4 linked regions of the Homo sapiens genome follow. The protein of the gene in region 4 interacts with the protein of the main gene of each other region in a biochemical or structural test. Each region holds a gene or a part of one and is shown on either strand. Other genes may lie near its edges. The genes, in order: PAK2, PAK6, NRG1 and LIMK1.

Evidence for each region.
Region 1: the proteins of LIMK1 (region 4) and PAK2 interact in a biophysical measurement, tested with the Homo sapiens proteins (one study listed by IntAct).
Region 2: of the proteins of LIMK1 (region 4) and PAK6, one has a biochemical effect on the other in vitro, tested with the Homo sapiens proteins (one study listed by BioGRID).
Region 3: the proteins of LIMK1 (region 4) and NRG1 form a complex in vitro, tested with the Homo sapiens proteins (one study listed by BioGRID).

Annotation. Positions count from the first base shown.
Region 1 is NC_000003.12:196,735,299-196,743,034, reverse strand, and holds the start of PAK2 (serine/threonine-protein kinase PAK 2), read right to left. Parts: upstream 3,179-7,736; 5' UTR 2,878-3,178; intron 1-2,877. UniProt on the Homo sapiens protein: Serine/threonine protein kinase that plays a role in a variety of different signaling pathways including cytoskeleton regulation, cell motility, cell cycle progression, apoptosis or proliferation.
Region 2 is NC_000015.10:40,262,618-40,270,139, reverse strand, and holds part of PAK6 (serine/threonine-protein kinase PAK 6), read right to left. Parts: intron 5,360-7,522; 5' UTR 5,355-5,359; coding exon 5,151-5,354; intron 4,299-5,150; coding exon 3,645-4,298; intron 1-3,644. Other genes in the region: BUB1B-PAK6 (serine/threonine-protein kinase PAK 6), read right to left, coding at 3,645-4,298, 5,151-5,354. UniProt on the Homo sapiens protein: Serine/threonine protein kinase that plays a role in the regulation of gene transcription. The kinase activity is induced by various effectors including AR or MAP2K6/MAPKK6.
Region 3 is NC_000008.11:32,761,248-32,768,769, reverse strand, and holds part of NRG1 (pro-neuregulin-1, membrane-bound isoform isoform HRG-alpha proprotein), read right to left. Parts: exon of another isoform or gene 6,749-7,522; intron 5,553-6,748; coding exon of another isoform or gene 5,432-5,552; exon of another isoform or gene 5,411-5,431; intron 5,023-5,410; coding exon 4,368-5,022; 3' UTR 1-4,367. UniProt on the Homo sapiens protein: Direct ligand for ERBB3 and ERBB4 tyrosine kinase receptors. Concomitantly recruits ERBB1 and ERBB2 coreceptors, resulting in ligand-stimulated tyrosine phosphorylation and activation of the ERBB receptors.
Region 4 is NC_000007.14:74,114,685-74,122,206, reverse strand, and holds part of LIMK1 (LIM domain kinase 1), read right to left. Parts: intron 6,406-7,522; coding exon 6,249-6,405; intron 1,625-6,248; coding exon 1,569-1,624; intron 1,316-1,568; coding exon 1,158-1,315; intron 1,069-1,157; coding exon 906-1,068; 3' UTR 1-905. UniProt on the Homo sapiens protein: Serine/threonine-protein kinase that plays an essential role in the regulation of actin filament dynamics. Acts downstream of several Rho family GTPase signal transduction pathways.

The sequences.
Region 1 (7,736 bases), on a different chromosome or scaffold from region 4:
TAACACCCTCCCTCTGATTAGTCTGGAAACTCAACTCTTATACCAAACTGATGGAAACCTTTACGACTTAAAGTCTTGAAGTTGACCCAGTTTCTTTTTCTTTTTCTTTTTTAATGAGACGGAGTCTCGCTCTGTAGCCCAGGCGGGAGTGCAGTGGCGCGATCTCGACTCACTGCAAGCTCCGCCTCCCGGGTTCATCACGCCATTCTCCGGCCTCAGCCTCCCGAGTAGCTGGGACTACAGGCGCCTGCCACCAAGCCCGGCTAATTTTTTGTTGTATTTTTAGTAGAGACGGGGTTTCACTGTGTTAGCCAGGATGGTCTTGATCTCCTGACCTCGTGATCCGCCCGCCTCGGCCTCCCAAAGTGCTGGGATTACAGGCGTGAGCCACCGCGCCCGGCGAAGAAGACCCAGTTTCAAATTTTAACCAAAAGTGTAAAAGTCAGAAAGCCAAAAGAAATATACTCAAATATTATTATAATAATAATCGATTTTGATGGATAAAAGGAAGAATCTAACAATTCCTACTCATTTTATCCTTGGCTACTTGAAGTTCTTAAATATTAGAAAAGTATAATTGAAAGTTTATCTTTAGCTACCTGAACAAGTTCTAGTCTCTCTTAAAAAGTATAATTGAAATAGAAACTGTTGGTGGTGTGCCGTGGCTCACGCCTATCCCAGCATTTTGGGAGGCTGAGGCGGGCAGATGACCTGAGGTCGGGAGTTCGAGACCAGCCTAACCAACACGGTGAAACCCCATCTCTACTAAAAATACAAAATTAGCCGCGCGTGGTGGCGCGTGCCTGTAATCCCAGCTACTCAGCAGGCTGAGACAGGAGAATCGCTTGAACCCAGGAGGCGGAGGTTGCGGTGATCGCACCATTGCACTCCAGCCTGGGCAACTGAAACTCCGTCTCAAAAAAAAAAAAAAAAAAGAAATATTAATTGTTAACCGCATCTACTTGGGAACCTGTCTATCATAAAGATCAGAGAGCCCTATCGCCTGTATACTCGAACTATAAACTTAATTTTGAATTTGGGTTTGCAAGGTTAGTATTAAATAGCACGGAGTCCAGAATAGTATCTCTCTCTGAATGAGAGTAAACCATAAACCAAGGCCCTAAGGGAAGTGAAATACCCAGGAACTCTTCCTTCATAAAAATATCTGCTGATTAGAAGAAACTGGCAGAGAAGCCAACATCTACAGACCAAGTTTCAAACTCCAACAAAACTCCAACCTTTCTACACCTTAATCCCTCAGGCCAATAAAACATCCATTAAGTTAAGGACAACTGATACTACTATTTAAGAAATGATGACAGTATTGAAGCTGAGTATTGGAGCCACTTTTTTCAGAGCCTTGCTGGAGGGAAAGGTAACAATGGGCTACTTAGTGAAAACACAAAATACACTGAATTTAGGTCAACCTGTTACCAAATCGGAAAGTTGGTTTAAGACCTACATCTATTACAGGTTCACTTTCCGTAATAAGTGTCAATCAATGTGCTTGGCTAATAAGTAGCTCGAAAGATTTAATAGCCGAGGATGACACAGTGAAAAAGTTGCCTGAAATCCATACTCCTAACAGAACATGAAAAAGGCTCTTCATATATACACGAGCATGAGTGGGCTTTACAGAAGCCACAGACCTTCTGGCAAAGTTGACAAGTTTTAACCTGCTTTAAAAATTACTATTCACTGCCTTCATCCCAATGTAACTTTACTGAGTGTTATTCTATTGGACAACCCTACAAAAACAAAATCCCCAGAGCAAATTCTTGTACATTTCAATATCCTGCCTACTTATAAGAGCGGAAGAGTCGAACACAGCAGGGGAAAAAACGTGACGTGCACAACCTTGATCCAAAACACAGCTCTTCGTAGTTTAATTTTAGGCCTAACCATTTTGTCTTTTTATAAAGGTTAAAAAAGAAAACAAAGAAAGGACACATCGCCTGTAACGCAGAAGTGAGATAATGATATCAACCGGAGTTCGTTATTTATCAAGGGACAACAAATCACGCTCACACTGCCCAGGGAGAGTACTACTAAAATTAAGATACAAGGATGGGTACAACCTCACACCCACTGACGATGACACGCTTCTGTTCTTGGATGACTTATCTTTAAAGAATTAGTTAAAAGGTTGAGTGGCAACGTTTTGTGTTTGTGCGTGCGTGTGTTTCCAAGAGAGCCAAACATGGTGAAAAACCAATCTTAACTTCACCTAAGTTATCTAAAGAAGCAAATTTCACCCCTAGGCTGAAGCTCAAACAGGAGCGAGGAGAAGCTCCGAAAGATCAGTTCGTAAGCGGTGGCCCTCAAGCGCCCGGGACGCTCTACGTTTTTACCAATGTGGAATGTGGAAAAGAGGTTACAGGCTGGAGCTGAGAAAACAGTCAAGCTACTCGCGACAATATTCCTGAGCAGTGAAACGGGTGAACAGAGAGCGAGCAAGCAGGGGCTGAGAATCAGTGAGAGGAAAAATCAAGGAACAAAACCGGAGAGTCTGGTCCAGCATTAAGAAAACGGAGCAAAGGAAGAGGGTGAAACGCGAGGGGAGGGAAGACCGAGAGTCGGCAGAGACCGTGGTGCCGCGAGGTTCAGAGCAGGGCTGGGTCCAGGAAGAGTCAGACCTCCGCAGCCCAGCGAGCTTCCCATTTCTGGCTAAAGCCAGCGAAGAAAACGGCCCTGGGGAGCAGACAATGAGCCACCGCCCCAGGAGCTGCGGCTCCCAGCACGCAGGTGGCGGCTCCCCGGCCCCGCGCGGGGCAGGTCGGCCGTCCCGGGCCGCTCCCGCCCGCCAGGCCACGGAGAAGGAAGGAGGAGGAAGAGACCCGGCCTGCGTCCCGCGCCGGCCGGCCTGTGTGCACTTACCCCGGGCAAGGCAAGGTCCCCGCCCCAGCGAGGCGCCTCGGTCAGAGCTCCCGGCGGGCTGCGGAGCCGCCCCGGGCTAGCGCGCGGTGCGGGGAGGGGAGGGGAGGGAAGGGGAAGCGGGGCGGGAAGAGACGCCGCGCTGGAGCAGCCGCTGCTACCGCTAGGCCCAGCGGCGGCGGAGTCCTGCGCACGCCAGGGAGGGGAGGGGAGGGAGCCTTCGGCAATGGCGACGGCCCGGGCCGGAGGGGAAGCGGAACAACCGCCGCCGCTGCGCGTGGCCACAACCCTGGGGGAGGAAGACGGCGGGGAGCGGGGCGGGGCGGGGCCAGAACCCAGAACCCCTCCCGCCCCGAAGCCGGAGCTCCCCGGGGCGGAGACGAGCGCCACCTCCCATGGGCAGGCCCGCGCGGGGGCCGCTGGGAGTAGTAGTTCGGTGATAGACGTTGCTTTTATTCCTTGGGTAGTCTTTGTATTGAGAGGAGCAGCCAGTCCCTCATTTAATTCAGCATTGTCTCCAAGCAGGTCTCTGCCGACGGAAGACGCTGACAGACGATTGCTGTTATACACATCTGCTCCGCGACATTTGTTTCTGGGAATTCATCCGTTATCCATTTTGCTTTTTTGCTTACAAATTCTTAACTAAAATTTTGCTGCTAAATTAAGTATCACCTCCTTGCAAATTAAGACTTCCCTATTTTATCCACGGAGGAGTTCATCAATGTTTCACTTATTCTACAAATATTTGAGTGTCTGATATGGACTAGACACTGTTAAGCATCAGAAATACAAGGGTGGTTCAGGTGCGGTGGCTCACGCCTGTAATCCCAGCACTTTGGGAGGCTGAGGCAGGCGGATCACCTGAGGTCGGGAGTTCGAGACCAGCCTGGCCAACACGATGAAACCCCGTTTCTACTAAAAATACAAAAATTAGCTGGGCATGGTGGCACGCATCTGTAGTCCCAGCTACTCGGGAGACTAAGGCAGGAGAATCGCTTGAACCCAGGAGGAGGAGGCTGCAGTGAGCCAAGATCGGGCCACTGCACTTCAGCGTGACAGAGTCGTCATGCCTCAAAAACAAAACAAAAAACACAAAAGAAATGCAAGGGTGAACACGATTCACCAAGCCTTTGTGGAGCTTATATGAGGACGCAGTAATTAAAGTAGTCACACCTGGTATAAGAAAAAACTTGGCGAGGTTACTTTGGATAGGGTGGTCGGAGAAGGCCTCGTTAAGGAGGTGACACTTAAGGCAAGAACAGAAAGAGACAGCAATAAGAAGCACCCAGAGAAAAGCAATACAGGCAGGAGAAGAAAGAAAAGGGCTTGCTACGGTCAGTTAAGAAGGCCTGTGTAGCTGGGGCCTAGAACAAGAAGGCGGTACTATTAAGAAAACACTACAGCAGACAAGATTCAGGTCATGAAAGATCCTGAATGCCATGGTAAAAAGTCTATATTACAAAAAACCATTAAAAGGCTTTTTTAAGCAGGAAAGCGATGTTACCTGGCTTACACTTTAAGATCACTAGACTGCAATGTGGATAATGGAGTATAGAGATGCAAGAATAGAAGGGAAATAAAGTAGGAAGGCAGTGGAAAGAAAGAGGAATTGTGCTTCTCTATCAATGTAGAGCAAAAAACTCAATTGATGCAGTGGGTACAGGAGAGAAAGGAATCAAGGAGCAACATGGCACAGTAAGAGATAACCTGAAAAATGCTCTGATTATTAAACACACAGAAACACTGGATAAATAAGACATCCTTTCAAAGGCATAACTTGCAAGAATGAAAATAGAATGTTTCTGACAGTCTTCCAAATTTCACACTCAACCTGAAGAAGGGGCAGGACACCAGAGTGGTAAGCAGGGCAGTGAAGCCATGGTTGTGTTGAGGGCACCTACTTATCTCAGAAATCTCTAGAGTTTTAATAGGTGCACAGGAAACTAAAGACAAGGACTTGGGCCTATACAAGAAGTCAGGACTGTGATCCTGCATAGGACTGGAAATTCAAGGCGCTATACCCTCCAAGAACAGACTGGGGGGAAAAAAAACCCTATGCTAGCCCAGGGAGACACACAGGACATTTGTTTACTTTGGCCTGCAGTGGGCTTGCAGGGCAGAAGAAAATTTTCCCTTTAGAATTAATAACCCTTTAGAATTTTCCCTCACTAAGGTTTTAAAGTTCAAATTTGTCAAGAAAGTGGTCCCAGGCTGGAGTTCTGGGGGGCCTGGAAGAAACAAATACAAATCCTGACTGCACAGGTGTACCCTCAACCTCGGTCTCAAAGGATTTCACAGATAAACAGGATTTCCGAAGCCAAACATGAGCACCCGAAATACAATACACCTGAGGAAATAAGCAGCGATGAGTGAGTCAATAGAAACTACAAAGAACATAATGAAACCCACACAGACTTTAGCTGCTGGAATTGATGGCTACAGAATATACAGTACGCCTATTTAAATGATTAAAGAAAGTAAGACAGGAGCTAGAAAACACGAGCAAGAAACAAGATGCTTTTTTTTTTTAACGACCAAACAGCTTTGAAAATGAAATAAGTAGGCCAGGCGCGGTGGCTCACACCTGTAATCCCAGCAGTTTGGGAGGCCGAGGTGGGCAGATCACCCGAGGTCAGGAGTTCGAGACCAGCCTGGCCAACATGGTGAAACCCCAGTCTCTACTAAAAATGCAAAAATTAGCCAGGCGTGGTGGTGGGCACCTGTAGTCCCACCTACTCAGGAGGCTGAGGCAGGAGAATCACTTGAACCTGGGAGGTGGAGGTTGCAGTAAGCCAAGAACATGCCATTGCACTCCAGCCTGGGCAACAAGAGCAAAACTCCGTCTCAAAACAAAAACAACAACAACAAAAGAATTAAGTAGAATTTCTAGAAACAAAGAATAACTGAAACCAAAGCCAATGTTTGGTTAAATAGCAGATTACACACAATTGAAGAGAAAATTAGTAAACTGGAAGACAGACCAAAAGAAATTACTGAGAACAGCCTAGAGACAGGAAAAATGAAAGCAAGCTTAAGAGACATGGGGATAGATTGTTAAGGTCTCTACCATACTCCTAATGAGAATTCCAGGAGAGAAAAGAGAAAAACCAAGAGAGGCAGATAATGATGAGATAATGGCTGAAAAATTTCCAGAATTGATTAAAGACAGGAATCTTCAGATTCAGGAAGCAAACTGAATACCAAGCAGGATAAGTAAAGAAATTTCAAACACATGAAAATGAAACCGCAGAATACCAGAGATAAAGCAACCAGAGAGAAAAGACATTCTGTACAAACAACTATTACATTCATAGCAGATTTCACAACAGCAAAACGGGTGCCAGTCAATAATGGTATATTTTCAAAGTACCAAGAGAAAATAACCAAGCTTAGAAGTGTACAGCTACCGGCTGGGCACAGTGGCTCACACCTGTAATCCCAGCACTTTAGGAGGCTGAGGTGGGCAGATCACCTGAGATCAGGAGTTCAAGACCAGCCTGGCCAACAACGGCAAAACCCTGTCTCTGCTAAAAATATAAAAAATAGCAGGGTGTGGTGGTGTGCGCCTGTAGTCCCAGCTACTTGGTAGGCTGAGGCAGGAGAATCACTTGAACCCAGGAAGCAGAGGTTGCAGTGAGCAGGGATCACACCACTGCACTCCAGCCTGGACGACAGAGCAAGACTCTGTCTCAAAAAAAAAAAAAAAAAAAAAAGTGTACAACTACCTAAATTATCCATCAGATGAGTGAGGATGAAATAAATATATCATCAAACATAAACAAGCTACCAACAGAGACACACTAAAGGAACTCCTTAAAAGGTATATTTCTTTCTTTTTCTTTCCCTTTTTTTTTTTTTTTTGTGACGGAGTCTCACTCTGTCGCCCAGGCTGGGGTGCAGTGGTACGATCTCGGCTCACTGCAACCTCTGCCTCCCGGGTTCAAGTGATTCTCCTGCCTCGGCCTCCCGAGTAGCTGGGATTACAGCCGCATGCCACCACTCCCGGCTAATTTTTTGTATTTTTAGTAGAGATGGGGTTTCACCATGTTGGCCATGTTTACAAGATAATACAAACAAAACCAGAAATGTTCTGTTATACTAAAAGTGATGTCATCTGCAACCATTTATCTAAGCAAGAAGAGTTATATCAAAGTTTTCTTCATTCACATTTTTATTACACTTCTGAATATTTGTATAAGTGAGTAAATGGCTGAACCACATTCCAAGCCACAATCTTAAATATTTTAAATACTGATGAAACCTGGTTGTGATGAGCAAAAACAAAAACATTCTGTATACACATACCCCCACATACTCTTAAGATGTTAAACAGTACCGTGTTCCCTCCCCGTCTAACCATATTCCAAAACGTTGCCTGTCAATCTAACCATATCCCAAAACAATGCCTGAATTGTAGCTGACATATATAATTCCATTTCAGTGTCATATTATTAATCCCATAGTGAAAGAAATGTTTCTAAAACATGAAATTCTTTCTTACGAGAAAGCATGAAATAGGTATGAAACTATACTGGGTTGAAATTTTAGTCATTTTAAAGGTCACTGTTTCTGCTTTATGGCACTGGGTTACCTTTTCCAATATTTAAGTCTCAAATACACGTTTAAAAAGAACTGTTAGGACTAGTCAGGTCATACATGTCAAATTATACAAGATGTAGTCCCATGAAAACACCAAAATACTTTAGGAAATGGAGCAGTGATGGCATATACAAAGGTTTATCACATCTCAATACTCTACATAAAATAAATAATGCCAACACACCCTGGTTTGATGTCTTCTGTTTTGGAACATGCTTGCCCTAAGGTTTTATTTACTTTTTTTTTTTTTTTTTTTTTTTTTT
Region 2 (7,522 bases), on a different chromosome or scaffold from region 4:
AGAAAGGCTCGGGGCTCTAAGGAAGCTGCCTGCTGGCCTGAGTGTGGACTTAACTCAGAAAACATGCTCTCCAGGCACCCATCCAGGTGGGTCGGGGCAGAAGCTTGGGGACCACCTAAAGCTCCTCCTGAGGTGGCTCTGATGACCTCTCATCCTGAAGCTCCTAAGAAAGGCTGTAAAATGAGATCATTCCCCTCCTGGCCTTGAGGGCTTCTGCATGGGCCAGCTCTACTCTGAGGATGTGTGGGTACCACGTGGACAGGCTGAGGTAGGGGTTTCTTCCCTGTCTCCACAGGCCAGGTCCCTGTGCTGCTGCTGCTGCTGCAGGTGCTGGCTGGGCTCAGGGCGGAGCCTGCGTCTGGAGGCTGGGGGAGGGATGGCCCAGCCAGGAGCCCAGCACAAGCAGAGTCTGGGACATAGGCTGGGGAGTCTGGGGAGCTGGCTTGGTCTTCAGCCTGGCAAGGTCTGGTCTCTAGCATCCTTTCGTTGGCTTCACTGCCTGTCTCCACAGGGAGGGAGCTTTTATCAATGTAATCACAAGCAAGGACCAGATGAAACTTGTGAGGCCACACAAGAAAGGGAAAGGGGGACACGACAACAGAATTAATTAATTGTTACAGGCTCTGGATTAATTCTGAAGTTACTCATGTGATAGACCTCTTGGGAAGAAAGCCACTAGAAGAGTCATGCATACATTTACAGCAATGCCTCATTTCCCGCCCTGAGCCATGGCTCCCCAGCTGTGGGCTTAGGGGGCTATACCTTAAGTATCCTAAAGGGGAGAGGCCATGGCATAATATTTTTAAAAATAATAAAGCCGGCCTGGCATGGTGGCTCAGGTGCCTGTAATCCCAGCACTTTGGGAGGCCAAGGCAGGTGGATCACTTGAGGTCAGGAGTTCAAGACCAGCCTGGGCAACATGGTGAAACCCCATCTCTTCTAAAAATACAAAAATTAGTTGGGTATGGTGGAGCGTGCCTGTAATCCCAGCTACTTGGGAGGCTAAGGTGGGAGGATCACTTGAACCCAGGAGGTGGAGGTTGCAGTGAGCCAAGATTGTGCCACTGCACTCCAGCCTGGGCGAAAGAGGGAGACGCCATCTCAAATACTACTAATAAAGCCATTTATTGAGGGCTTACCACTTTGACAAGTGCCTTCAACGTACTATCTCATGTAATCCTCATAACCCTGTGGGTTGTTTGGTTGTCCTGTAGGCACTGGAACCCGCAGGACGCCCGTGGCTGCTGACTCCCATGCTGCAATCCCACTGGTGCCATGTATCCTTGACATATATCGGAGTACACGGTAGGTGCTTAACCAATGTTTGCCCTTCTGACTCTAAGTGGAACATGTCTAATCCCTGCAAGCTCCTAAAAAACTGTCTTGCCTCTTTGGTCTCTGTGCCCCCACGCCCTGTCTTCCTGATCTCTTTAGCTAGAGTGACTCCAGGCCTCACTGCCTGGGGCTAGGTACAGGAGCCCTGGAGTCTATACTCAGACCCTCCTGCAGCCATGCCTGGCACACTGCATGGCCTCTGTGGCCTAACTGCTGTTATGGAAGCTGCTGCAAGTGTCCAGAGTCAGCCCCAGTGCCAAGGGCTGCTGGCTTGATCTGGGGACTCCTGGGGTAGGTGGTGGTGGAGGAGGAGGAGGAAGGCTGATGCTCCCCATCTGTTATTGAATTTGCTTAAGGCAGTGGTTCTTAATGGGTGTGCTCGAGTGACATTTGGCAGTGTCTGGAGGCATTTTTGGTTATTCCAACCGAGGGTACCACCAACTTCTAGTGAGTAGAGGCCAGGGAGGCTGCTACAGTGCAAGGAGAGCCCACCACAAAGGATGGACTGACCTGAGCGCCTGCAGTGAGGACGCTGAGAAGCCCCGGCCCGGAGCAGCTCGGGGGGTCTCAGCTTGCCATTGAGAGGCTTGGCTTCAGAGTAGAAATCTTGAAAGATGTGTCTGAGTTGCCCAGAAGGAAACCACTCCCCTGGATTTGGAAGTATGGTGTTGCTGAGCTCGAGATAACTACCGCCTGCTCCCACAAGTATGGGGGACATCCCGGCATACCCAGCAGCAGTGGCCCATGGTGAGTACTCAGTACATTGTGCAGGGATGGACAGGCCTCTCCCCCTGCTGTGGGGTGCTGGCAGGAGCCCAGAAAGATGCAAATGAGTGCCCAGCCCAGTGTTGACAACCCCTTTCTCCAAATCCCTGAGGCCTCGCAGCAGGACTCCTGAGAGACAGAGGGAGGTCAAGCTCCGAATCTCACCTTCCCAGCAGGGTGCACTGTCCTGATCTTACGTTGGTTTTCTGGCTGAGTCTCCCCAGGGGCACAGCCTTCCAGACACCCTGCAGCTCACAGATGCTCGTGTTCCTCTCACAGATACATCAAGCCACAACCCATGGGGATCCCAACCCACTGTCCTTTAACCTAGTAGGGGACTAGAGTGCACAAAGCTCAGAACTTTCTCTTTTTTTTTTGAGACGGAGTCTCGCTCTGTCTGTCCCCCAGGCTGGAGTGCAGTGGTGCGATCTCAGCTCACGGCAAGCTCTGCCTCCCGGGTTCACGCCATTCTCCTGCCTCAGCCTCCTGAGTAGCTTGGACTACAGGCGCCCGCCACCGCGCCCGGCTAATTTTTTTTGTATTTTTAGTAGAGACGGGGTTTCACCGTGTTAGCGAGGATGGTCTCGATCTCCTGACCTCGTGACCCATCCACCTTGGCCTCCCAAAGTGCTGGGACTACAGACGTGAGCCACCACGCGCGGCCGCCCAGAACTTTCTCTGAGTACCTCAGCTGGCAGGCAGTGACCCAGAGAGGTTGTAGTCCGGGTCATCCCCAAACCCACACCCTGTGCAGGCTGGGCCACACTCACCCCACCGATGACAGGGGAGTACCCAGGCTTGTCTTAAAGCCCTCCCAGGAGGGAGGGGAGGCTCCATTACCCATGCCACTGTCAGCAGCCGTTTCTTAGGACTGCCTTTGACCCTCCCAGGAAGGAGCTAAAGAACAAGTGGCTGCTGTGCTTGTAAAGCCTTCATACGCAAGAGTCATGAGCCAAGAGGGCCCGGGCCGGACAGGCAGCCCCAGAGCACTCCCCACCTTCCTTCTCTGACTCACTCTCCATCATGCCTGGGGGTGACTCACCCTCTCTCTATCAGTCTCCTCCTCTGCCAAATGGGAAAAGAGGTTACTGTCACTATCAACAGGATGCTGGAGGGCCTGGAAGAAGCAAAAAGGTGCGCTCCACTCTGCCTGCCAAGAAATGTCACCACGGGGGCTCCCTTCACCCTTTCCTTTCTCACAAGAAAAATGTGCGTCTGAAGCAGTCACACATGCCACAAGTCGGCCTCCTGCTGCCCCTGGACTAGGCAAATCCAGCTTTTCCTATGGCCACACACTTGGGAACAAATACTGACAGAAATGGGAAACAACACAACAGCCACAGAGAAAAGAAGGAAAGGAAGGGAGGGAAGGAGGAGGCGAGCCACCCTCCTTAGAGAAGAGGTTACCGTGCACATTTCTGCCGCCTTAGGCGGAAGCAGTCCAGGGAGCCTCTTTGCCAGTCCTCCAAGGGGAAGGCTAGGCAAGGCCTGTGTCCCTACACCCACTCCCCAGTGGACACCTGCAGGCCAGGCTCCTGACTTACCTTGCTCTGTGGTGGAGGGCCTGGCTTGCTGCTGCTTGGAGGGGCTGTGGCAGCAGTGGACAGGAACATGCTTCGGAATAGCCTGCGCTTCAGGCTGCTCTCCCGGGTCTTAGGGCTAGGGCTGCCTTCCCCACCTGGCCTGCCTGTGGCTGAGCCCACCAGGCAGGACTGTGGCCGGGCCTCCTCAGAGCCATGCTTGGCAGCCTTCATTCCATGCCTATTGGTGCCCGTGGGGGGCGAGGCTCCTGGTGGGGAGCTCTGCAGGCAGGCACCCAGCTGCAGACAGCGCTGCGAGGCACCCTGAAACTCGGCGGGGCCCAGGGACTGTGCCTTTGCAGCCAGCCCATTGGGCAGGACCCGTGGGCTCTGTGGCTCGGGCCACGGCATCTGCTTGTGGCCTGCTGGTGTGCCCCCGTTGCAGCTGAGGTAGAGGCCGTGGGGGTCAGTGCGCTCAGACTGGGGGCTCTGGAGGTACATGTCTGGGTCGGTGGCCCAGTGCTCATCCCCCAGCAGCCCCAGGGACTGTGCCCGCCGCCGGCTGGTGGGGCTGCGGCCACGCAGGGTGTTGGAGCTGATGACTGACAACTTCTGGATGTCGTTGAGCAGCCCCGAGATGTAGCCATCCACAGGCATCGCGCTGCCCCGCACCACTGTCTGTAGGGGGAAGAGAAAAGAGTGTGTGGGAGCTGCCCAATTGTGGCAGGGAGGGGTGGCTGGGAGATCAGGGTCAGAGAATGTCCCTGGGGGCCCTGGGGAGGACCACCTAAGGACCTTCCCTGCTGTGTCATCCACCCATTAATTTTTCCATAATTTATCAGGGCCCACCGTGGGTCCCGCCTGTGCTGGATGCAGGGATGCGGGGAGAAGGCCCAGCGTCAGCAGAGCAGATGGTGAGTGCCATGGGGCTGCATCCAGCATGCCCAGGGGTGTGGTCGGCTGGGCCAGGGAGCTGGAGCTCAGGGGGCGGGGCTCCATTCTCTAGCTCCACGGGTGGCTGGGAGAGATGTGCCCAGCCCTCTGAGGAAGAGACACCAGGCCGGGGGCTCCTCCACACACACTGGCTTCGCAGCCTCCAAACCCTGATAGGGCCCCTGACCCCACCTTCTACCAGGCTCTTGGGTCTACTAGTCGTGACCCTCACAACTAAAATTCTCCTGGTCTGGGAGAGCCCTCAGTCCCTATGGGGCTGCAGGTCCAAATATTGAATGGGACACGTCCTAAAAGACTATTCGTTGTCATCTGAAATACAAATGCAATTGAGCATCTCACATTTTCATGTGCTGAATCTGGCAACCCCACCACCCTGCAGAGAGGGTCTCCCCAGCCTCCTTCGCCCTGGCTTACCCAGGGAGAGAATGGCAGGCTGACAGGCAGGGAGTTAAAACAGCTGATTAACTGATAGCTGTGAAGTAGGTGGTTCCTCCAGGGGCCTTTCTGAGGTTTAGCCAGGCATGGTTGTCTGAGTACTGGGAGAGGCTGAACCTCATCCCTGCCGGCCCCTCTTACCTTCATGGGCTGGAGCTGCACCCGTGTGATTCGCGAAGGGTCCACCACGGGCTTGGGGCGCCGCAGTGTGTCCAGGATGTTCTGCCATTGTGGGGGGAGGCCCACAAACTTGCCTTCTTTGGGGTCGAAGGAGGTGTGGACACGGTGCTGGAAGTTCTGTGGCGCTGAGATCTCAGGGCGTTTCTTCTTTTTCTTGCGGAACATGGTGCCTGTAAGTGCAGAGTAAGGTTGAGCTCCCTCCCGGGAAAGAGGGGTGGCTGCAGCAGGGCCTGGGGCACCAGGTTCAGGGCTCCCTCCCCTCCCCCAGCACAGCTCCCCTAGAAGCCTAGGGCTTCCCTCCACCTCCATCTCTGCTTCCTCAGGGAAATGGCTGGCTCCCAGCAGAACAGTCCCAGAAACAACAAACGTGCCATAAATAAGCCAGTGCAGACTATAAACAAGGAAAAGAGGTGTCTTCTTGCCTGTGCCAAGTCCCCTATGGAGCAGGCAGACTCTGGGGGTGTGTTTTTATAAAATCCAAAGCCCATTACAAGTATCATTCCACTGTCTGTCAACGAATTTTAAAAATGGGGAAAGAGGGAGGAAAGTTAGCAAGCTTGTTTTATGAAACGAGTATGACCTTGATTCTTAAAACCAGATAAGGAGAGTGCAAGAAAAGGAAAATTTGACTCAATATCATTTAGGAACGTAACTATGAAAATCTTAAAACTATCGAATTGAATCCAACAGTATATTAAAGTTATTTTTTTGTTGGCTTTTTTTTTTTATTACAACTCAGCTTTGTCCCAGGATGGTTGAACCTGTTAATATGATACGTTAATAAAAAGCCAACCAGCTGATCACAGACATGCTGCCCGGTGTGGGACTATTATGTATCAGGGAGCCCCCAAAGGGCCTTCATGGTTACCATGTGCTTTACCTCAATTCCAGAAAGGCCCTGAGCCAAGAGGATAGCCTGGGGTGGGTGAGGGGCAGCTAACTTAGGGGTAAAGCTCTCCAGAGAAGGCAGAGAGCACCACCTCCCCTTGACACTCTTCTCTCTGGTATTGGAGCTCTATGTAAAACATCACCTGGGCCGGGCATGGTGGTTCATGCCTGTAATCCTAGTACTCTGGGAGGCCGAGGCGGGTGGATCACCTGAGGTCAGGAGTTTGAGACCAGCTTGGCCAACATGGTGAAAACCTGTCTTGACTAAAAATACAAAGAAATTAGCCGGGCCTGGTGGCACGTGCCTGTAGTCCCGGATACCCATGGGGTTGAGGGAGGAGAATCGCTTGAACCCAGGAGGCTGAGGCTGCAGTGAGCTGAGATTGCCCCACTGCACTCCAGCCTGGGCAACAGAATGAGACTCTGTCTCAAAAAACAAACAATAAAACACTTAACCTGCAATCAAGCCTGTGTCCCGTGCCTTGCTGATTCTGGCTTTGCCTAAGGTCGTGCTGAGCTGCATACACAGAAGTGACACAGGCTTGCAATGGATAGCATGGGTAGATCTGAGAGTGGGGAACTGGGGGCCTGGGAAGGGGAGGGACACTTCCAAAGGGTTGCTCTAGTTTCGCCTTCAGGGGATCCCGGACCTGGGATCACATGTTGATGGCAGACAGGGCCAGGGCTGCCTCTTGAATGCTTTTGGATCTGAAGAGGCTCAGAACAGCTCACTGGGTTCTTATGTATCTGAAAAGGTCACTTCCAGGCTTCAAGAAACTGAAACATGATTCTTGAACTGAAAGCTTGGATTACTCATCCGCCCGAAGATCTGGAGTGCAGGGCCGTCATGTTCTCTTTTGGCTCTTGCTATGGAAACAGCATTTTCCTAGTCATTTTGGCAGGTTCTGAAGGAGGTCGCAGATCTGGGAGGCAGCTGGCAGAAAGGCAGGGACCCTGGACAGCCAGTGGTTCCCCACTAGGAATTCACCATGCGTGACTCAATCAGAGCCCACGTCACATCTCAATGTCAGCCATGCTTCTGGGTCTTGAGGTTCGGGATCCACCGAACACCCCCTAGAGGTAGAGCCACATGTACAGGACCCTTACAGACCAAGCCCTTTGGAATAAAACAACCTGTGTGAGTTGCAGATGAGTTGTAGGGAGTCTCCCACTAATAATTTGGAGAGATTTTGAACAAATAACTGAAATGATCTGAGCCAGGGGGGTTAATGAAAGACAGCTCATAGGGTTTAGGGTGTGTGAAGTAAGCAGAGTCCCCATACATGACGGTTGTTTCTCTTGTGATGTCACCTCTCTTTGAATCCCTGTCTTGAAGCTCAGGCCCTCCAGACACTGGCACTTGGGCAGATACAAGTCTGGGAGTAACACCAAACCACTTTCTGCTCAGACTTACCAGTCAAAGGGGTCATGCCTGATGTCAGGGG
Region 3 (7,522 bases), on a different chromosome or scaffold from region 4:
CACTTCAGAAGCTCTTAACCTACCTGGAATAATGAGTGAAATGCTTGGAATATATGAAGGGTACCATGCAAATATCTATTTGTTAAAATATGGCTTTTGTTTAGGTTAATTGCAGTAAGAAAAGTAATACCCTCATTTCTATGACTCAGTCTTAGAATATGAGAATTTTCTCATGCAAAGGCTCCTCCCTGAGCAGTTAGATAGACATGAGTTTGATTTGTTTTATTGACAGAATAAGGGGAATGAACCTAACTTGGCCTTCTCCTCTTTTAAAATTATGAATCCGTAAATTGTGGGCCCAATGGAAAGTCATTAGCGGATGGTATAAGGAAGCTTAGCATGGCCAGGTGTCAACTGGCTGCCTTTTAGGCCACTATGGGCCATTGGACTATTTGAACCATGAGAGCATTTTTCGTTACCTTTCGTGATTGAATGGCACGTTGACATTTTCATTAGTCTGAAGGAGTTTCTTACTGCCACTACAAAAGATAGCAACAGCCAGGATCCAGGCAGTCATGCCCTAGAATATTCTCTCTCTGTTATTGTGTATGGAGGAAAAAGGAAGCATAGTACTGTCTGGTTGTGTGGCCTCTTCAACAAGGAAGAAAGTGATAAACAGCATTGGTAGGGAGGAGATGATTTGAGAACAGGTGGTGTGGCAAAAGCAATGGACAGACAAGAAGCAACGTATAGACAAGGTGATCATGGGGTCCATGGAACACAATCCTAAATTAGCATAACTATGGGAATGAGATGAAAGGTGCTGGTCTAACAGACTGAAGCTGTAGTCTGCTGAGCAACACTCCCAGGTCTCCACAGAGTAGCATTTTTATTGCAGTATGTCTTTCATGGAAAATGGACAAAACTTTAAATAAATCACAATTACTTATTGCTTAGTATTTTGAATAATAAATTCTTTAGTTTATCAGTACCTCACGGCCTTCAATGTGCATTCTTCAGATAGTTTCAGTTACATATACATTCTTTCTCCTGAACAATAAATTATTCTTAAAAAAAAGAAAAGGAAAAGATACATAATTTTAAAGCAAAGAAAAACAAAAGAACATATATTTTTGACATTTATCTTAAACTTATATGAAAACAACTCTATATGTTAGATGCTTAAATATAAATAATAAAGGACATTATGTTATTTACAATGTTACATAGTAAGTTGAGAGAGTAAAAACTGACATTAACTCAAAAAGACAGTAAATGATATAAGAAAACATCCAAGTAATATACAATATGTATTTACAAAAGAATATATAATAGAACTTGTGATATGTGGCCATTTCCTTCTGCCTACATTTCTCTTCAGTGTTTCATAGGTCTTCGCAGATAGAAATCTCTGGCTGGTGGAATGCAGCCAGTATTATTAATACAAGATAAGACCAGGCCTTCCTTATTTTCACCAGTGTGAGCCATGCGCCCTTTAACCCCAGGCCATAAAAAGGAATAGTTAGTGAGCAAGTTACCCTGGATAAACTTCACCTCTAACAAGACAGTCACACTGAAACAAGAAAGTGATAGCAGGTTTGGGACACATTCACCTACACAGAGGACCATTTTGTAGAAACTAGAATGCTGTCCAGGCACTCTTGGGGGCAAAAGTCACACTAGGCAGGAAGGGAAAGTAAGATAGAAAGTGAATCTTAGGTGAAACAAAAGGAGTTTTGCATGTATTTGCATGTATTATGCTCCACTGCATACACCTCAGTGGGATACGATTTTAGACCCGGGAAACAAAGTTGCTGTCAAACTCCTGGGCAATTTCTACTACCTTAAAACCTAAGATAGCTTTCCATATGCTGGGAACATAAGTTCACACTCCGATCGCCACTGCACTGTCGGAATTTATTAACAGAGGTGGTCAAGAGTGATGTGACAAGCATCACAGAGATACCCCTGTAAACACAAATCTAGTGGCCTTGGCAGGTGATGCTGAGCAGTCAGCTGGCCTTTTTTATGAAGGGTGCAAAGGATGTCCCAACTATAATAATATGCCACCTCTGTGAGTGATCAGAATCAAGTTAGAAATACAATTTCCTCTTGTCTTCAATTTTCATATATATTTGCAATTTTAAAATGCATAGCAATTCTCATTGTAAGAAACATGTTGCTCATGGTTCTCAACAGAAACTTCTATTTATTCTTAAAATTCTTCCACAATGGGATATCTGAGTACCCCAATGCCCAAAGAATTTGAAACAGAATTTTTAGGGTTTTAAATTCATGGTAGGAATTTCTTCATTGAAATAGCTAAGGATGAGTCAAGGCCTTCAAAGGCAATGTTAAAATAATTTAGAGAACTTCATTGGACTGACTGTCTTCTTCCCCATGCCGTGAGCTTACTCATTACTGCAGAATTGGAAAATCAGTGCAACCTGACAAAGACTCCTCAGTGTAGGTTAAAAAGCAAATGAGGATACCACTGTGCACAGAGAAAGTGGCATGTGAACAGTGACGAAAAATTTGAGATACCAAATACTAACAATAACTTCAAGAACCTGCAGACAGGCATCTCTGTGGATTGTAGGAGCATGTGGGAGGGTAACAACATGACTCATGCCCAGCCTGCATTTTTCTGCTAAGACCTACTTGCATGTCATTTCTTCTTTTTAATTGTTAACATCAAGATTTGGTGAAGAAATACATTCAGTTCACCCGCAAAAAAGAAGCAATTACTCTCACTGACTTCATGAATCCCCCGATAACCTGTTTCCCATTTGTCCCATGGTTCCTAGGAGGCCATGTGAATCCTAAGTAAAGCTCCAGCCCTGATTTCACAGATATCAGGCAGGCCATGAAATGGGTTCTGTGTTTCAAATAATTTTTTTTCTTCCATTTTCCTGAATTAGCAGTTATTTCAAATGTTAATACTTATAGGCCTTCCTTTGGATTTACCATCACAAAAGAACATGCAATGCTTAGACCAATCTTAGTCCTACTTTATGACAGTAAAGCAAAAATTAAAGGAGGTGGGGGAAATGGGTGAGAGAGCCTGTAAATGGAGAGGTCAGGACACAGGTGGGGGTCACTTCTGCAAGTAAAGGTGCAATCTTTCCAACAGGATTGACATTTCCTGATGAATCATTACTTGTGATTACAAATCACATACACATCGGCCATTCCTGATAAAAAATGTTCATGCATAGTTATGACCTGATCAAGGCAACATGGAAAGATAAAAGAAAAATAAGGGGGAGAAAGGGGTGGTCATCCACATTTTAAAATTTCAACGGAGTCACTAAGCTTCTCTCCACCTATACAGTCACTCCTTCTGAACACTCTACGATGGAAATACTTCCCTATGATGACAAGTCATCGCTATGTACAGCAGGCACGTTTGACTCTAGAAGTATTTCAGACAAAATGCTGCATGTGCTGTCTGGGCTGGGCTTTTTGTGCCGTAATATGCTTCTTTTTGAGCCAAGAAGACACAACCAATCACTAGCTTCAAAATCAGTGAAAAATACATGTCAGAAATGATTGCACCTTTATCAGCCGTGTTTTGATTGTCAACTAGATAAGCTGCTGGATCATTCCCCCAGAGAGAAAGTGACACTCAGTCCTCTTGTAAGGTGTTAGATTTACCCTGATAGCAAGCCAGAACCCATTTTCTAAGCTATCCCTAAAACTGTTGCTTTTTGTCAAGAAAAATAAAATCAAATAAAGTAAATGAGAGCTCCTTTTAGTAAGAGCAAGCTGTCTTCTGATTAATAATATAGTTTTTTTTAAATCACAGTATTACTTTCTTCCTAATATTTAACATTACTTAATGCAGTTTCTTGCTGTATTTAATAGTAGCATGCTGTTGGATCTACTATTATCTCAGAGCCCAATGAGGCAAACCTTTGGCTGGCAGAGTAGACACAACTCATTTCATATTCTGAAAGCAAAGAAAACTTCATACACAAGAGAGGCATATCTGGATGGATGTGCCATTACAAGACATACTGATCGGGTGCTACTACAAGCAAACAGAGGGACAGTTGCAAGTCTTGCAAATCATACATCCAGTCAACATCATAATGCAATGCACAAGAAGCCAGCAAAAACTGAATCTATGAGAGGTTTTGCAGAAATACTGTGGAAAAGCAATCACTGTAACTGTACAAAACTTGCTCTCGACATAACATAACATAAAGGCACCATTGATATCTTTCTCGTTTTGAAATACTGTAAAAAATTGCTACATATGGCACATAACACATTTTTACATACATATATTTAATTTATAAAAGTTTTTTTCCTGTTTTCTATTTGCAGAACTGCTAAAATAAAATAAATTGTTTAATTTAAGGTGGAATACTTTATTATATAAAATAAAGTTTTACAGGTGAATCTATGTGTTTATTTAGGTTTTATACAGCAATAGGGTCTTGGTTAGCAATTACACTAGACAGCCTGGCCTGGATTTCTTCCTGTGTCGAGAAGCGGCCTGCTGGGTTAGTCCTGCTGTCAGCCAGGCGGAAGGCAGGTGTTGCCTCAAGACTGGCTGCCAGGGGGTTCTGTATGCCCAGGAAAGGCGTATCTTCACCTACTCTTTCATCTTCTGTTTCACTCTCTGAGTTACTGCTCTGGGAGCTTGTGTTGCTGTCCACTTCCAATCTGTTAGCAATGTGGCCATTGGGCTTGGTTCTTTTGGCCCGCCGGCTATTGGCGAGTTTCTTAACAGGCTCTTGGGCTGGCTCGTACTCTTGGGTCGTTTCATACTCCTCATCCTCCACTATCCTCAAGGGGCTAGCAGGGAGGCTGTTACTGTCATGCGCGGGGTTGTGGTGGAAGGAGCTGAACTGCTGAGGGTGATGGTCAAACTTCTTCTCCCGCAGCCTTGGTGGTGTCACGAGAAGTAGAGGTCTCTCTTCTTCCATGAAGGGGCTGACCGCCATGGAAGGCATGGACACCGTCATGCTGGACACGGGTGGAGACATTTCCGAAGGGGGCGATTTGGGGGAGCTTGGCGTGTGGAAATCTACAGGTGACATACGAGCCGGGGTGGTCATGGCTGACACATACCTGTGTGAGCACAGAATACCCTGCATAAGTGTGGTGCAATAAGAGGCACATAGCAGGGAAGGTAAGGGGACAGAGTTCACGGTATTATATCATCAGAGAACAGAGAATTTCTATTCATTGTAGGCTGCTTAATTATTTAGGCTAGGAAATTCCACACCCTTGGAATCGAAAATTAGGTAGCCAAGAGTTTCCTCACAGGAGTGCATGCAAAGATCAGCTAAATTGCCTAGCTCATCAAAGCTTTTGGGATTTTCAATCTCATCACAATTATAAATAATGGCATATGAGCCAAGACAAGAAGGCATTAGGTCCTGGAAACCTCTCAGCTTATATAAGGACCAAGGCTCAGGGATTCGGAAGGGAAAGAAGTATTACTTAAATACTATACCTTCCTAAAGGCCAAGGGGTCTTAGAGAATGAAGCCCAAATGGGGAATGGAAGAAGATCTAAGATGAGTTGCTGATAGCTGGATCTGCATGCATTTGGATCTGTGTGCCTTGTTTCTCCTTAGCTCAGCTATAAGGTTATGTCTTATGAAAAAAAAAGAGCATAGTAACTTAGATTTATTCCTGACAACAGTGTCATACATTTGTGTGCTTTTCATTTTTTCCATGAAATGCAACTAGTTAACATTCAATTTGGAACTATCCATCCCAGTGTCCAACAAACACAGTCAAAGGTAAGCCTGAGAGAACCTAATTTGGCTTCACAGTTACCACAATGGAGGTTATGTCCAATCTTTGGTCTATCTCTCTTCCAAAACCCACAGCTATATCAGTCTTTGGTCAATCTCTTTCATGATGCCTCAAGGGTTGGCTGTACCCTGTTACCTTCTATCATGTTATGTCTGATAATGCTCAGTGACTCTTGCCATTAGGCCACCGAGCACACTGTTTTCACCACACCATGCTTTCTTCCCCCAGTATAAGAAGTCCTGACTTTTGGCACTGAGGAAGACGTGGCTTATTCAGAGTCACATTTCTCAGCTTTTGATAAAAAATGTTACCAACGCACAACACTAAATGACTCTTTTCTTCACACTGGCATTCACAGAGTCTAATTTGACGTGACCTGAAATGACATGGAATGCCATCATCTGAACTCTTGCTAACAGGAACGGAAAACGTATGAACCTCCCTGCTTCTCCCGGAGTCACAGTGATACAGACGTGAGAGCTAGCTGCCTCTAAACTGGGAACGTGCCTGAGAAATTGAAATATGTGGGCCTTGAGCCTTCAAACTTTTGGCTTTGGGGGTACTTAAATTAAGCTCTCTGAGAAATGCTAATTTAAATTCAACCAACATATAAAAGTGATTCATCTTTTCTCTCCATAATCTCTAGGTTCAGGAATATTTCGTAGTCCTAGATATCATCTAGAAGCCCAGCACAGTGGGGAAATGTCAACATTTAAGGATAAATATCACTTGTAGTGATGAAGAATGATTTCATCTCTAACTTCCTTTTCATGTTTCAAAAAACGATTGAAACAGAATGGATAGACTTCCTTAATACATTAAAAAAATATGAATTTAAGACTAAAGTTTTAAAACAGTTTAAACCCTGCCTACTTTTTCATAGATTGGTTGCAGGGAAACCTCTGATTTCATAAATTCCATAACGTTCTAAAATATCATTTTTGGGGAAAGGCCCTTGAAGAAGTAACCAACAGGCTTGCAAGTCCAGAATGTTTTTTTTTTTTTTTTTTTTTTGAGGCGGAGTCTTGCTCTGTTGCCTAGGCTGGAGTACAGTGGCACCATCTCAGCTCACTGCAGCCTCCACCTCCTGGGTTCAAGCAATTCTCCTGCCTCAGCCTCCCTAGTAGCTGGGACTACAGGGCAGCACCACCATACCCAGCTAATTTTTGTATTTTTAGTAGAGATGGGGTTTCACCATGTTGGCCAGGATGGTCTTGATCTCCTGACCTCGTGATCTACCCACCTCAGCCTCCCAAAGTGCTGGGATTAGAGGCGTGAGCCACCGTGCCCAGCCTGTCATTTTTTATTGTAAGTACTCCCCAGTCCATGAGTGGGAAGAGTCTATGAAAGTCATCCCTACCCATGGAACTACCACACAAGTATGAATTTGACATTATGTAAACCTTTTAGTAAATGGTCAAGGATTAGACTAAGATGACAATAAAATAAAATAAAATAAAATAAAATAAAATAAAATAAAATAAAATAAAATTCAGCGGACTTGCAAACAAACAGGTAATAGCTTACCTCTGATTTCATAAATTCCACAAAGTTCTAAAATATCATTTTGAAGGAAAGGCCCTTGCAAAAGTAAGCAACAGGCCTTCAAGCCCAGAATGTGTTATTTTATTGGAAGTAACTTCCCAGTCCAAGAGTGGAAAGACTCTATCAAAGTCATCTCCTCCCATGTAACTACCACATAAGTATGGATTTGACATTATGTAAACCTTTTAGTAAATGGTCAAAGATTAGCCTGAGATGACAATAAAATAAAGTAAAACCCAGCAGACTTGCAAACAAATAGG
Region 4 (7,522 bases):
CAGAAAAAACGCAGAGGACAGAGGGGCATGAGGAGGGGCAGGGAGCCTTGGGGGAGAGGCCCGGGAAGGGGCTCTGAGATGACTGCAGGGGCTGAGCTGCTGGTGGACACCTGCCCGGTCCACTGTGCCTATCCTCTCACTGCCGGAGCCGGCTCCTCCCCATCGCCGGCCAGGGCACCGCAGCTCCACGCTCCCTCAAGGGACCCCCTTCACCCTGAGGCTTGGTACCTGCTTCTCACTAAAGTGGCTTTAAGAAAGAAACAAAAAAAAGACCCAAAGCGAGAGAAGGGGCTGTTTGCTCAGCCACTGGGGACCTCCGCCCCATGGGATCAGCCCTCTCTCTGCTTTGGGGGTTTGGAGAGTCCTCGATACCTGTTGCTACCTAGACACCCCCTGGGGGGAAAACGGGCCCCAGACTCCCCATTTGGTTCCTGGGAACACAGACACCTGGAACTTGGCCTCTGCCCTGATGTGCGCCCTCCCACGCACCCAAGCGTTATATGGGGCATGGTTCGGAGGCTGCCTCCTGGCCCAGCCTCCAGGGAGCTATGGACCAGACAGGTGGAGCGTGAACAGGGTTGCTGGGGCAGCGGCGTGTGGAAAGGGGCGTAACTCACACAGGCCCTCCAGCTCATGCAAGGAGAAGCAAGAGGGGACAGCCCTGCCAAGACAGAGGTTACAGCAGGGCGAGAGCATGGTGTGTGTGTGCAGCTGGGCCGGCTCTGGGCCACGGCAGAGAGAAGGCAGGGGAAGCGGTCCACGGGGTGGGAGAAGGCAAGTCAGGGCCTGGCTCTGAGGAGAAGCCTGGGTCCCCACTGTCCCAGCTGAGGGCCACCTCCCGCGGAGGAATCTGGTGGGGGTGGATTCTCCAGAGGTGGGGACAGGGGCAGCTGAGTGGCCCTGGCTCAGTCGGGGACCTCAGGGTGGGCAGGCAGTCCGCTCTCGCCGCGCCGGTAGGTCTCCCAGAAACCTCTGTCCAGCTGCTCCAGCTGTGGGCCCAGTGGCAGGTGGCCGGCCAGGTGCATGCGGAGGGTCTCCAGCCAGTGTTCCAGCTTCACAAAGGATGGCCTGGGTGACAGGTGGGTGGGGAACGGTGGGTCTGGCTGTCCCGGGAATCGGCCCCACCGTCTCCCAGGCCAGGGCCCCACCCCACTCACCTCTTCTCGGGGTCCAGATCGCAACAGCGCACGGTGATGGGGAAGAAGCTCGGGGGGCAGTTTGGGGGGCAGTAGCGGTCCAGGAATCCTCGCACGTTGAGGCCAAAGTCCATGGTGCGGGGCAGGTAGTCAGGGTCTGCGTTCACCCGCCCGATGATCTGTCCAGTACAAGGCCCGGCAGTTACTCCAGGGGGCCCTCAGCCTGGGCATCTGGGTGCCATCCAGGTGGTTTGAGGGCAGGTGGCACTGGGCCTGGCTGCAGCCTGACTGCAGTACCCCATGGGGGCCAGCCCATGCCTTGCTGTGGGCAGGCTTCCTGGCATGAGGCCCCTGCAGATGCTGAGCCTGCAGCCTGGGTGAGTGGGGAGGAGCCCAGGCCTCAACACCGCTGCTACCCAACCCTGGACCTACCTCGCACAGGACGATCCCAAAGGAGAACACATCCACCTTCTCATCATAGCTGCGGCCTGGATAAAGAGACCGACTGTCAGCAGATGAACACATGGGGGTGCCAGGGATGCCAAAAGGCAGGGGACCAGGCCAGCTGGGAGGATGCCCCGGCCGGGAGGTCCAGGCCCAGGAGGCAGATGCCGGCAACCTCTATGGGAACCCAGGCTTAGGCTCTTTCCCCCAACCCCACCAGGTCTGAGCAAGCCTTTGGGAGCTCTGAGGAGCAAGGGGCAGAGCCCTGGACAAGGAGTTCGAGGCACCGATCAGCTGCGTGACTTTGCACAAGTCATGAACTCTGTGCTGGTCCCAAAAGGGAACCATGTCAGGTCTCTGGAATCTGTGAATGTTACTGGGTCAGAAAAAGGGTCTTTTGCAGATGGGATTAAGTTAAGGATCTGGAGATGAGATGATGCTGGATGATCTGGGTGGGCCCCAAATGCCACTGCAAATGCCCTCTTGAGAGAGACACAGAGAAGACACAGCAGAAGAGGAGGAGGTGGCCCTGTGAAGACAGGGGTGGAGACTGGAGTGATGCGGCCACAAGCCCAGGAATGCAAAACAACCAGAAGGTGGAAGAGGCAAGGAATGCATTCTCCCCTAGATCGCCCTGGAGGGAGCGCAGCCCTGTTGGATTTCAACCTTCTGGCTTCCAAAACTAAGAGGGAATAAATTTCTGCTGTTTATTTTATCTTGAGATGGAGTCTTGCTTTGTTGTCCAGGCAAGAGTGCAGTGGTACGATTGTGGCTCACTGCAACCTCTGCCTCCTGGGTTCAAGCGATTCTCCTGCCTCAATTTCCCGAGTAGCTGGGATTACAGGCGCCTGCCACCATGCCCAGCTAATTTTTGTACTTTTAGTAGAGATGGTGTTTCACCATGTTGGCCAGGCTGGTCTCGAACTCCTGACCTCCAGTGATCTGCCCGCCTCGGCCTCCCAAAGTGCTGGGATTACAGGTGTGAGCCACTGTGCCTGACCATTTTCTGCTGTTTTAAATAATCAAGTTTCTAACAATTTATTACAGCAACCTCAGGAAACTGACACAGACTCTCTGAGCCTCAGTTTCCTTATTGTAAAATGGGAATGATACCAGCTACTTAATGATGTTAAAAATAATCGGTACATGGCCGGGCACAGTGGTTCACACCTGTAATCCCAGCACTTTGGGAGGCCGAGGCGGGTGGATCACCTGAGGTCAGGAGTTCAAGATCAGCCTGGCCAACATGGTGAAACCCCATCTCTACTAAAAATAGAAAAATTAGCCAGGCATGGTGGCAGGTGCCTGTAATCCCAGCTACTAGGGAAACTGAGGCAGGAGAATCACTTGAACCCAGGAGGTGGAGGTTGCAGTGAGCCGAGATCACGCCACTGTACTCCAGCCTGGGTGACAATGCAAGACTCCATCTCAAAAACAAAAAACTGGCCGGGCACGGTGGCTCACACCTGTAATCCCAGCACTTTGGGAGGCTGAGGCGGGTGGATCACGAGGTCAGGAGATCGAGATCATGGTGAAACCCCGTCTCTACTAAAAATACAAAAAATTAGCCAGGCGTGGTGGCGGGCGCCTGTAGTCCCAGCTACGTGGGAGGCTGAGGCAGGAGAATGGTGTGAACCCGGGAGGCGGAGCTTGCAGTGAGCCGAGATCGCACCATGCATTCTAGCCTGGATGACAGAGCAAGACTCGGTCTCAGAAAAAACAAAAAACAAAAAACAAAAAACAAAATACCCGAAACAATTAGTACTAAATGTCAATTCTCATTTACTGAATGCCAACTAGGTGGAAATGAGTTTACAACCTTTAATCCTCACACTAATCCCTAAACATAGGAAACACTAAGACTTTTTTGTTTTTTGAGACAGAGTCTTGCTCTGTCGCCCACTGCAACCTCTGCCTCCTGGGTTCAAGCAACTCTCCTGCCTCTGCCTCCTGGGTTCAAGCAACTCTCCTGCCTCAGCCTCCTGAGTAGCTGGGATTACGGGCGCCCGAAACCATGTCCAGCTAATTTTTGTATTTTTAGTAGAGATGGGGTTTCACTGTGTTGGCCAGGCTGGTCTCAAACTCCTGACCTCATGATCCACCTGCCTCGGCCTCCCAAAGTGCTGGGATTACAAGCGTGAACCACTGCGCCCGGCCACTAAGACTGTTTTATAGTCTTCTTTGCGGGCTATGTTAACTCTGTGTGTGTGTGTGTGTGTGTGTGTGTGTGTGTGTGTGTGTGTGTGTGTTTGACACAGAGTCCCACTCTGTCGTCAGGCTGGAGTACAGTGGTGCGATCTCGGCTCACTGCAAGCTCCGCCTCCTGGGTTCACATCATTCTCCTGCCTCAGCCTCCCGGGTAGCTGGGACTACAGACGCGTGCAACCACGCCCAGCTAATTTTTTTGTATTTTTAGTAGAGATGGGGTTTCATCATGTTGACCAGGATGGTCTCAATCTCTTGACCTCGTGATCCGCCCACCTCAGCCTCCCAAAGTGCTGGGATTACAGGAAGGTTTTTTTTTTTTTCTTTTTGAGACACAGTCTTCCTCTGTTGCCCAGGCTGGAGTGCAGTGGTGCAATCTTGGCCCAATGTAACCTCTGCTCCTGGGTTCAAGTGATTCTCCTGCCTCAGCCTCCCTAGTAGCTGTGCCACCACACCCGGGTAATTTTTGTATTTTCAGTAGAGACAGCGTTTCACCATGTTGGCCAGGCTGGTCTCGAACTCCTGGCCTCAAGCAATCCGCCTGCTTCAGCCTCCCAAAGTGCTGGAATTACAGGTGTGAGCCACTGTGCCTGGCCTATTTTTTGTTTTCTTGAGACAGGGTCTCACTCCGTTGCCCAGGCTAGAAGGCAGTGGTATGATCATAGCTCACTGCAGCCTTGATCTCCTTGGCTCAAGTAAATCTCCCGCTTTGGCTTCCTGAGTAGCTGGGACCACAGGCATTAGGCACCACGCCACATGCCAGGCTAATTTAACTAGGTTAACTATGATGAGGTGATGGCTGGGGTCTGCCTGCCCTGAACCTGTGTTCATGTGTCACCTGCTTGTAGAAGGACTTTATAACCTATAATCTGGGCATATATAGGACCATTGACAGCAAAGAAATGGACTGAGGGAAGCAGACCCTGTGGGAGGCAGAACTATGATCCCCAAAGATGACTGCGTCCTGATCCCTGGGACTTGTATACGTCCCACCTTCCATCGGACTCTGCAGATGGGATTAAGTTGAGGGTCTTGAGATGGAGGGCTGCTTTTGGATTATCCAGGTGGGCCCAATGTCACCGTAAGGGTCCCTATCAGAAGGATGGAGGGCCATGGTGGCTCATGCCTGGAATCCCAGCACTTTGAAAGGTCAAGGCAGGAGGATCGCCTGAAGCCAGGAGTTTGAGACCAGCCTGGGCAACATAGTGATACCCCCGTCTCTATTAAAAATTTAAAAAATTGGCCAGGCGCGGTGGCTCACGCCTGTAATCCCAGCACTTTGGGAGGCCGAGACGGGCGGATCACGAGGTCAGGAGATCGACACCATCTTGGCTAACACGGTGAAACCCCGTTTCTACTAAAAATACAAAAAATTAGCCAGGCGTGTTGGCGGGCGCCTGTAGTCCCAGCTACTCGGGAGGCTGAGGCAGGAGAATGGCGTGAACCCAGGAGGCGGAGCTTGCAGTGAGCTGAGATCACGCCACTGCACTCTAGCCTGGGAGACACAGCGAGACTCTGTCTCAAAAAAAAATAAAAAATAAAAAATAAAAAAATTAGCTGGGTGTGGTGTTGCATGCCTGTGGTCCCAGCTATTCAGGAGGCTGGGGTGGGATGACAGTTTGAGCCCAGAAGGTTGAGGCTGCAGTGAGCTATGGTGGCACCACTGCACTCCAGCCTGAGTAACAGAGCGAGACCCTCTTTAAAAAAGAAAAAAAAAAGGAGGAAGGTTAGAGCCAGGGAAAGAGATGCGGGGATGGATGCAGAGATCAGAGAAGAGAAGATGCTTTGCAGCCAGCCCTGAAGACAGAGGAGGGGGCAGCAACAGGAGGAATGAGGAAGCCTCCACGAGCCAGAAAAGGTCAGGAAACAGGTGCCCCGGAGCCTGCAGAAGGAGCTCACCCTACCGGCGTCTTGATTTCAGCCCGGTGAGGCTGACGCTGGACTTCAGACTCCAGAACTGTATGATCATTTATTTAAGCCACTAAGTGTCTTCTATTTATTTATTTTTTGAGATGGAGTTTCGCTCGTCACCCAGGCTGGAGTGCAATGGCGCGATCTCGGCTCACTGCAACCTCTGCCTCCCAGGTTCAAGCGATTCTCCTGCCTCAGCTTCCCTAGTAGCTGGGATTACAGTACTACAGTACTGGGATTACACCCACCACCATGCCCAGCTAATTTTTGTATTTTTAGTAAAGAATGGGGGTTTCACCATGTTGGCTAGGCTGGTCTCCAACTACTGACCTCAGGTGATCCACTCACCTCAGCCTCCCAAAGTGCTGGGATTACAGGCGTGAGCCACCGTGCCTGGCTGCCACTAAGTGTGTTATAGGAGCAACAGGACCCACAGGGTAACTGAAGAGCCAAGGAGGCTGGGAGGGGCCAGGGGCTTGGGAGGTTACAGCTCTCCTGGGCTCCCCCATGGCTTCCCGTGAGGGCCATGATGGGCAGGGCTGAACCACTCACCGTTGATCATCTCAGGTGCCATCCAGTAGGGGTTGCCCACCACGGTGTAGCGCTTCTTGCGGTCTGGCTTCTTGAGGCTCCGCAGGCCCTCAGGCTGAGTCTTCTCGTCCACCATGAGACGCGCCAGCCCGAAGTCAGCCACCACCACATTCTTGTTCTGGGAAGGTGAAGCCGGGTCATGCTGGGACCCGATCCTAGTACTGCCCGCTTGGCCTGCCCCTCCCCAGGACCCCAAGCCAACCTGTAGACAGCCCAGAGAACATACCTCTGATACGCTGTATTGGCACAGGGTGGGGACCCCTTCCTTCCCCAAACCCATCCGCTCTTTGCAAATGGAGCTGCGGGAAGCACCTGAAGATAGCAGTGTGGCTTCCTCCCTCCCACCACACGCTGCACCCTCTGCCCCCTCCCCACCTGCTCCCCAGACCGTCGTGGCGGACCCACTGCTCCCTCCTGCAAGCGCTCCCTCCCACCTGCGGGGGCACTGATGCTGCTTTGTTTCGGAGAGAAGACAGGAATTCTTTTGTTTTTTTTTTCAGACGGAGTCTTGCTCTGTCACCCAGGCTGGAGCGCAGTGGCGCGATCTCGGCTCACTGCAACCTCCGCCTCCCAGGTTCAAGCGATTCTCCTGCCTCACCCTCCCGAGTAGCTGGGATTACAGGCGCCTGCCACCATGCCTGGCTAATTTTTGTATTTTTAGTAAAGACGGGTTTCACCATACTTGGCTAGGCAGGTTTCGAACTCCTGATCTCAGGTGATCCACCCACTGTGGCCTACCAAAGTGCTGGGATTACAGGTGTGAGCCACTGTGCCCATCAAGACAGGAATTTTGATTATAGACCCAGGTCCTGTGCTTGGCATGCCACCAGATTTACTATTTATTTAGGTTGATTGACTGATTGAGATAGGGTCTTGCTATGTTGCCCAGACTGGTCTTCAACTTCTGGCCTCAAGTGGTCCACCTGCCTCAGCCTTTCAAAGTGCTGGGATTACAGGAGTAAGCCACCATACCTGGCCCAATTTTATCTTTTTTTTTTTTTTTTTGAGTTGGAGTCTTGCTCTATTGCCCAGGTTGAAGTGCAGTGGCACGATCTCAGCTCACTGCAAGCTCTGCCTCCCAGGTTCACGCCATTCTCCTGCCTCAGCCTCCCAAGTAGCTGGGACTACAGGCGCCTGCCACCATGCCCAGCTAATTTTTTGTATTTTTAGTAGAGACGGGGTTTCACCGTGTTAGCCAGGATGGTCTCGATCTCCTGACCTCGTGATCCGCCCAC